Linked DNA regions of Homo sapiens. The protein of the gene in region 1 purifies or fractionates together with the protein of each later gene. This does not show direct contact. Each region holds a gene or a part of one and is shown in the gene's direction. Other genes may lie near its edges.

Region 1 (3,084 bases):
GAGGACACTAGGGAATCCTCCATTCCGTCCAGAGGGAACCAGAGGGGCTGATCAAACCAGCAGTCACAGGGGCCGTTGTGAGGTCAGTGGCCTTGGACGCAGGTCAGTCTTCCAGAGGGTCCTGGCTGCTTTTCCTCACATTCTTTACACTGTGAGCCCCTGGAAGCTCATGCTCATCCTGGGGGCCCCATGGAAGCCAGATGTACCCCCGACTGGATTCAGGCACCCAGCTCCTGCCCGGCTCTGTCAGCTCCTGTAGGGGCTGGAGTGTTGGTGGACTGAGTCCCAGAAGGACATGTGGGGCGGGGGAATCCCATTATCTGCCCTGGAAACATTCTGCCTGTGCTCCCAGGGGTCCCTAGGCCTGCTGCCCCCATAGGCCAGCACCCCCAAACTGCAGACACCCTCTGCAGGGCGGGTCAGCACGGGGCCTCCGTTCCCCTCCTATCCTTCCCTCAGGGTCTTGCCACCTCCACTCCCAGTGCTGGAGAACTCAGGGCTTCTCTGCCCCTGTTCTGTCTATGGAGTGAAGGGCTGAGACCCCTAAAACAAGGAAAGGCGAGTTTGGCCTCCTTGCGGGGTAGGGGGGGCTGTATGTATCTTCCACTCCTCCCTCATGGAGGTGCCCCTCATGGAGAGGCCAGGGGACCTTGAAGCCCTGAAATACAAGCTCAGCAGGGGAGACCCAGGACAGCATATGGGGCCTGGAGGTGTGGGCGGTGGGTGCTGCAGGCCCCAGCCTCGCCCTCGCTGGTCTCTGCCTGCAGGCGTGAACGATGGTGACATGCGGCTGGCCGATGGGGGCGCCACCAACCAGGGCCGCGTGGAGATCTTCTACAGAGGCCAGTGGGGCACTGTGTGTGACAACCTGTGGGACCTGACTGATGCCAGCGTCGTCTGCCGGGCCCTGGGCTTCGAGAACGCCACCCAGGCTCTGGGCAGAGCTGCCTTCGGGCAAGGTAGGGCCTGCTGTCCCCTTCCACTGAGGCTGAGACCCACAGCACAGCCAGCTCCCAGGAGGGGCAAATCCCCTAAGACGAAACAGTCAGGTTTCAAAGACATGCAAATTGGATTCCTATTAATTTAGCAAGAGCAAACACTTTTTTTTTTTTTTTTTTTTTTTTTTTTTTTTGAGATGGAGTCTCGCTCTGTTGCCCAGGCTGGAGTGCAGTGGCACAATCTCGGCTCACTGCAACCTCCGCCTCCTGAGTTCAAGTGATTCTCCTGTCTCAGCCTTCTGAGTAGCTGGGATTACAGGTACCTGCCACCATGCCCGGCTGATTTTTGTATTTTTTAGTAGAGACAGAGTTTCACCATGTTGGCCAGGCTGGTTTTTAAACTTCCGGTGTCAAGTGATCCGCCCGCCTCAGCCTCCCAAAGTGCTGGGATTACCACACCCGGCCTATGAGCAAACATTTTCAATGGTGCTGAAGGCCTGCGGATCAAGTTCTGATGGGACTGCTCCACCCACACTTGGCCAGTGATGGTGGCGGGTGCTTGGGCAGGTTCAAGAGCTCGGCTGGGCTCGTTCCCTCCGGCCCAGAAACTCCACTCCAGGGAGTTTATCCCATTGAAACAATTTCTCCTCAAAAGAAAAGTCTGCAGGAAGATTTCCACTGACACAGCAGTTGCGATTCTGGAAAAAAAAGAAACAATCCATAAACTATTTAGCAGCAGGGATAGTCACACAATTACAGTATGTGAACCTGATGTTGCAGGGATAGTCACACAATTACAATATGTGAACCTGATGTTGCAGGGATAGTCACACAATTACAGTATGTGAACCTGATGTTGCAGGGATAGTCACACAATTACAGTATGTGAAACTGATGTTGCAGGGATAGTCACACAATTACTATACATGAATGTGATGTCGCTGAAGCAGCCGGTAAGCTTTATAAGCATGAAGGCTAAGTTTATGGCCTGACATTGCAATCACAAATCCAGCCCATGCTGGAATATCCTCCGTGGTTCGCTGGTGAAGGACCTGTAAGCAGATGGACCCACACGGCCGGGGCGGAGAACAAAGGGCTGAGTCGCGCTGTGGGACTCCTGGGTGCAGTCGTCACGCCCCCAGCCCTGCCATCTGCTGTGTCCACAGGATCAGGCCCCATCATGCTGGATGAGGTCCAGTGCACGGGAACCGAGGCCTCACTGGCCGACTGCAAGTCCCTGGGCTGGCTGAAGAGCAACTGCAGGCACGAGAGAGACGCTGGTGTGGTCTGCACCAATGGTGAGCGGGGGCGCACCTCCCTGCGGAGGCCCCAGTGTGCCCTGGGGTCCCGTGGCCCCTGCCCCTCCCAGCACCACCCCCCCACGCACATGAAGCACACAAAGGTTCCTTCCACTACCGCCTGCCCACTCCGCATGGAGAGGCCCAGACGTCCCAAGAGCCCACCAGCTCCCAGTCCCACAGTCCCAGACTCCTCCCCAGCCCCTTCTGGAGAAACACCCAGAACCACCAAGTCTCCATGCAGAACCCGAGTGTGGGGCAGTGAGCCACAGTTTCAGTGAGCATGACACCTGGCTCCAGCCTGACCTGAAATGCCAGCGTCCGCTCAGAAATACACTTCACAGCACGCGACAGGCTCAAGCCCGTCCTGGCGGAGGGAGTCCCGGCTACTCGCAGCCTCAGCCTGCTTCCCCCAACCTGGCCCAGTTTGGAGGGAACCCAGGCTGCTCTGCAGGTTGGAGCCTCTGGATCTGAGTTTCTTGTTTTTCTTTCATGCCGAGGTGGCTCTTCCTGGGCTTGCACGTGACAACCTGGGCATTTCCTGCCCACTGCCCTTTGCCAGGAGTTGGAGGCCCCTAAGGCAGGACGGGTCGAATCCCAGGGAGCCCCTGTGCCCACATGGGATGGACAAGTGGCTGGAGCTGAGCCTGGACTCACAGTGGGGGAAGCCCAGGAGACGCCATGGGGCTGTCGGGGGCCAGGGGAGGCGGCGGGGAGCACACGGGGCCATGGGCGCACGGCCAAAGCTCCTGGGGCAGGAGAGCTGTGGTAAGGCGTGCAGGTGGGAGGGAGCTGGGGGTCCTGCGGTGGCTCAGGTTTTAGGAGGCCCAGGGCAAGCCCACCTGGTT
Region 2 (3,500 bases), on another chromosome or scaffold:
AAAATGTTTTCCTTTCATCCTTGTCGCTCAGCTACCCGGTTCCTCTCCATGTATGCAACCTGTCTTACTTTTTCTTTTGTATCCTTCCAGAGATATTTTAGGTTTCTGAGGTTTTTAATACTTTGCTTTTCTGCTATGTGCATTATAGATGTTGTAGACTTGTACCAATCACTGTTCATTCACACATTGTAGGACTTCCCTTGAATATTTTGAGGATAAAAGATTAATTCAAAAGGAGTCAAATAGTCTAGTAGGAAATCTTTCAGTCTAGTAGAGGAGAGAAAAATGTATAGAAAGAACTGCTAATGTGTGGTAGAAATTGCTCCTTACTGTTACAGACATAAAAAAGTATACTAGAAGTTCAGTGAAAGGAGGAATTTACAAACTGAGTGGAGGATTGGAGGAGATTTGAGGTTGAGCTTATATTTGAGCTGAATTTTAAAGATGAGGAGGAGTTTAGTATTTTAGGAAGAGGAAGTACTCTGAGCAGAAGCAGGACAAGAGGAAAGTAAAGGGTTTGTACAACATATATTTTTATTTAAAAAAATGAGTGCCAGGCACTATGCTCATTTGCAGATGCAATGGCAAATAAAACAAACACAGTCTCTTAATGGATGTCTTGCCTTATGGAGCTTACAGTCTAGTAGGGGAAATGGATATTAATCAAATAATCACACAGATGTAAAACCGCATCTGGTAAGTAGTATGAAGGAAAAATACCTAGTGCTCTGATTGTCAGTAGTGGAGGATTTAACCTGGTGGAGAGGTGAGGGAAGGCTTTCTCAGATCCATGTACTGAGACCTGAAGGATGATAAGTAGGCAAAGGGGAGAGAGAACAGCCTTCCAGGAGGGAACCTTATGAGTGTGAGGGATGGAAAATATGTCAATGTGGCTGGAGCACAGAGAGCAAAGGTGATGCTGGTTTGAGATAAGATGGAAGAAGTGGACTGGGACCAAAGCGTAGGGAAGCCATTTTGAGTTGTAAGCAAGAAGGATTTGAGGTGTGGGGATTGGTGATATGATTATTTTGCATTTTAAGAGATTATTTCTGACTTTAGTATGGAGAACTAAATTGTTGGTTGGAAGAGGACCTTAGAAATATGGTAGATCAATTAGGAAATAGGTAGTGGAGGAGATAGAAATGGGCAGATTTAGTAAGTAAAATCTATAGAATTGGCAATAGATTTGAAATAGGGATGAGGAAGAGGGAAGTGGTAAGGATGACTCCTAGTATTTGGCTCACATAATGTAGAGATCAGTTGATCTAGATTTTTTTTTTGAGATGAGGTCTTGCTCTGTTGCCCTGGCTGGAGTGCAGTGGAATGATCATAGCTCACTGCAGCCTTGAACTCCTGGGCTCAAGCGATCCTCCCACTTCAGCCTTCTGTGTGGCTGGGACTACAGGCATGTGCCACCATGCCCAGCTAATTTTTATTATTATTTTTTTTTGTAGAGATGTCTCATTATGTTGCCCAGGCTGGTGGGCTAGGTTTCGAAGAAATGGCAGTGAGTTCAGTTTTGGGAGAGCAGCATTTACAGTATTTTTGAGACAGAGATTTCCAATAGGCAGCTGTTGGAGGTTGGAGCTTAGAGGAGAGATCTGCGCTAAAGATATAAAATAATATAGTTAGATTGAATGAAAGGAAGTAGTGGGAAATATTATAAAGCTATATTATGGGACTAGATATATCATGGAGGGCTTTGAAATATAGCCTTCAGTCTATAGTTTGGGTTTTGTACTACAGTTGTAAACCATAGAAGTTTGAACAGCAGAGTGACAAAGGCTCTACTTCAAAAAGACTAGGCCATAGATGAGTTGGAGAGGGCAGCGGTTAGTGCCTATACCAGAGATACTTAAGACTGGAACAGGTACATCGAGGAGAGAAGGGGATGGCTGGAGAGCTGTCGTAGAAAACAATATACATAGGTAGACAGCTGACTGGGTGAATGGGATGAGGAAGATGGATGTGTCAAATGGATTTTCCCAGGAGCCTGGATAACAGAGAATGATAGGAAAAGGTTTAGGGATAGCATAGAACAGGAAAGTGGAGTTTATTAATCTGTTCAGTTGTTTTTTTTTTAAGTTCATATTTTACATATCACCCCGTAGCATTAATTATTTAAGTCATACTTGGCATCTGATGAGAATTCTCTAAAGTTCAGACTTAGATTTTAAGCTAGGTCTTCATGCTGCTTTTGCCATAACAAAATTCAGGTTGTGCATGGGAATGTGAGGCTATGGGTTGTTTTTAATTTATTAATTTGGTCTTTATTTTCCTTTTTTTTTTTTTTTTTGAGACAGAGTCTTGCTCTGTTGCCCAGGCTGGAGCGCAGTGGCACAATTTCAGCTCACTGCAACCTCTGCTTCCTGGGTTCAAGTGATTCTGCCTCAGCCTCCCAAGTAGCTTGGATTACAGGAGCCTGCCACTACGTCCAGCTAATTTTTGTATTTTTAGTAGAGACAGGCTTTCACCATGTTGGCCAGGACGGTCTCGATTTCTTGACCTCGTGATCCGCCTGCCTCGGCCTCCTGAAGTGCTGGGATTATAGGTGTGAGCCACCATGCCCGGCCTATTTTCCCATTTCATATGAAGTTTCCAGTATCTGTTTCTAAAAAGTAAAGACACTTAATGTAATCACAATATGGTTATCACATCTAAATATAAATGTACATTAATTCCTTAATATCAAAAATGCAGTGTTCAAATTGCCAGTTGTCTCATAAATGTTAAATGTTGCATTTTAAAGTTATATTTTATATAATCAAGATCTATATAAGGGTCCCATGGCAAAGGTTGATATGTCTCTTAAGGCTATTTTAGTCTACATATTCACTCACCATCTCCCCAACCTCCCACCTTATTTGTTGAGGAAACAAGGTGGTTTACTCTCAGCTCGATTTTGCGGATTTCATTATCATCGTGTTGCTTGACATGTTCTTCTGTCCTCTATTTCCTACTGAGGTGTGATCAATTTAGATTAGATTAGATTTTTTTTGCAAGTTATTTTGTACTAGACTCAGTGGTTAAAAGTGTGTTAGAAAATAAGAGCTGCTAAATTGTTACGTGGCACAGAAAGTGGTGGGCAAGCACCCGGCAGAGAGAGACATCAAGGGAATTGGGTGGCCCTGGTTAAGAATAGCTTAATAGAGGTGATCTTAGAGAATGTGTGGGAGAAGAAAGCACATATAATACTTTCAGCAAGAAGAACATCATCAAGGTAGAAAGGGAAATAGGAAGAATCAGATTTGGAGGGCTGTGAAAGCCAGGCAGAAGAATTTGCAGTTGGTGATGCTACTAAGTATGGAACTACCAGAGGTTATAGAACTGGGATGAGATATGTAGTAAAGGTGCTGTTTTAGAAAGACAGGTTTGGAAATAATTCAGATAGAGAGTTGAGGACTGAGTTTGGAGAATTTGGTTGGGGCAGAGGAAGGGTGGTCACCAAAAAAGGAAATGATACAGGATCAGTTCAGGGAAATAGGAAGATGTCATAGAAG

Evidence for each region.
Region 2: the proteins of LGALS3BP (region 1) and FBXO45 purify together in Homo sapiens (co-immunoprecipitation; 4 studies listed by BioGRID and IntAct, with this or other methods). This does not show direct contact.

Annotation. Positions count from the first base shown.
Region 1 is NC_000017.11:78,973,840-78,976,923, reverse strand, and holds part of LGALS3BP (galectin-3-binding protein precursor), read left to right. Parts: intron 1-767; coding exon 768-959; intron 960-2,104; coding exon 2,105-2,236; intron 2,237-3,084.
Region 2 is NC_000003.12:196,571,660-196,575,159, forward strand, and holds part of FBXO45 (F-box/SPRY domain-containing protein 1), read left to right. Parts: intron 1-3,500. UniProt on the Homo sapiens protein: Component of E3 ubiquitin ligase complex consisting of FBXO45, MYCBP2 and SKP1. Functions in substrate recognition but also plays an important role in assembly of the complex.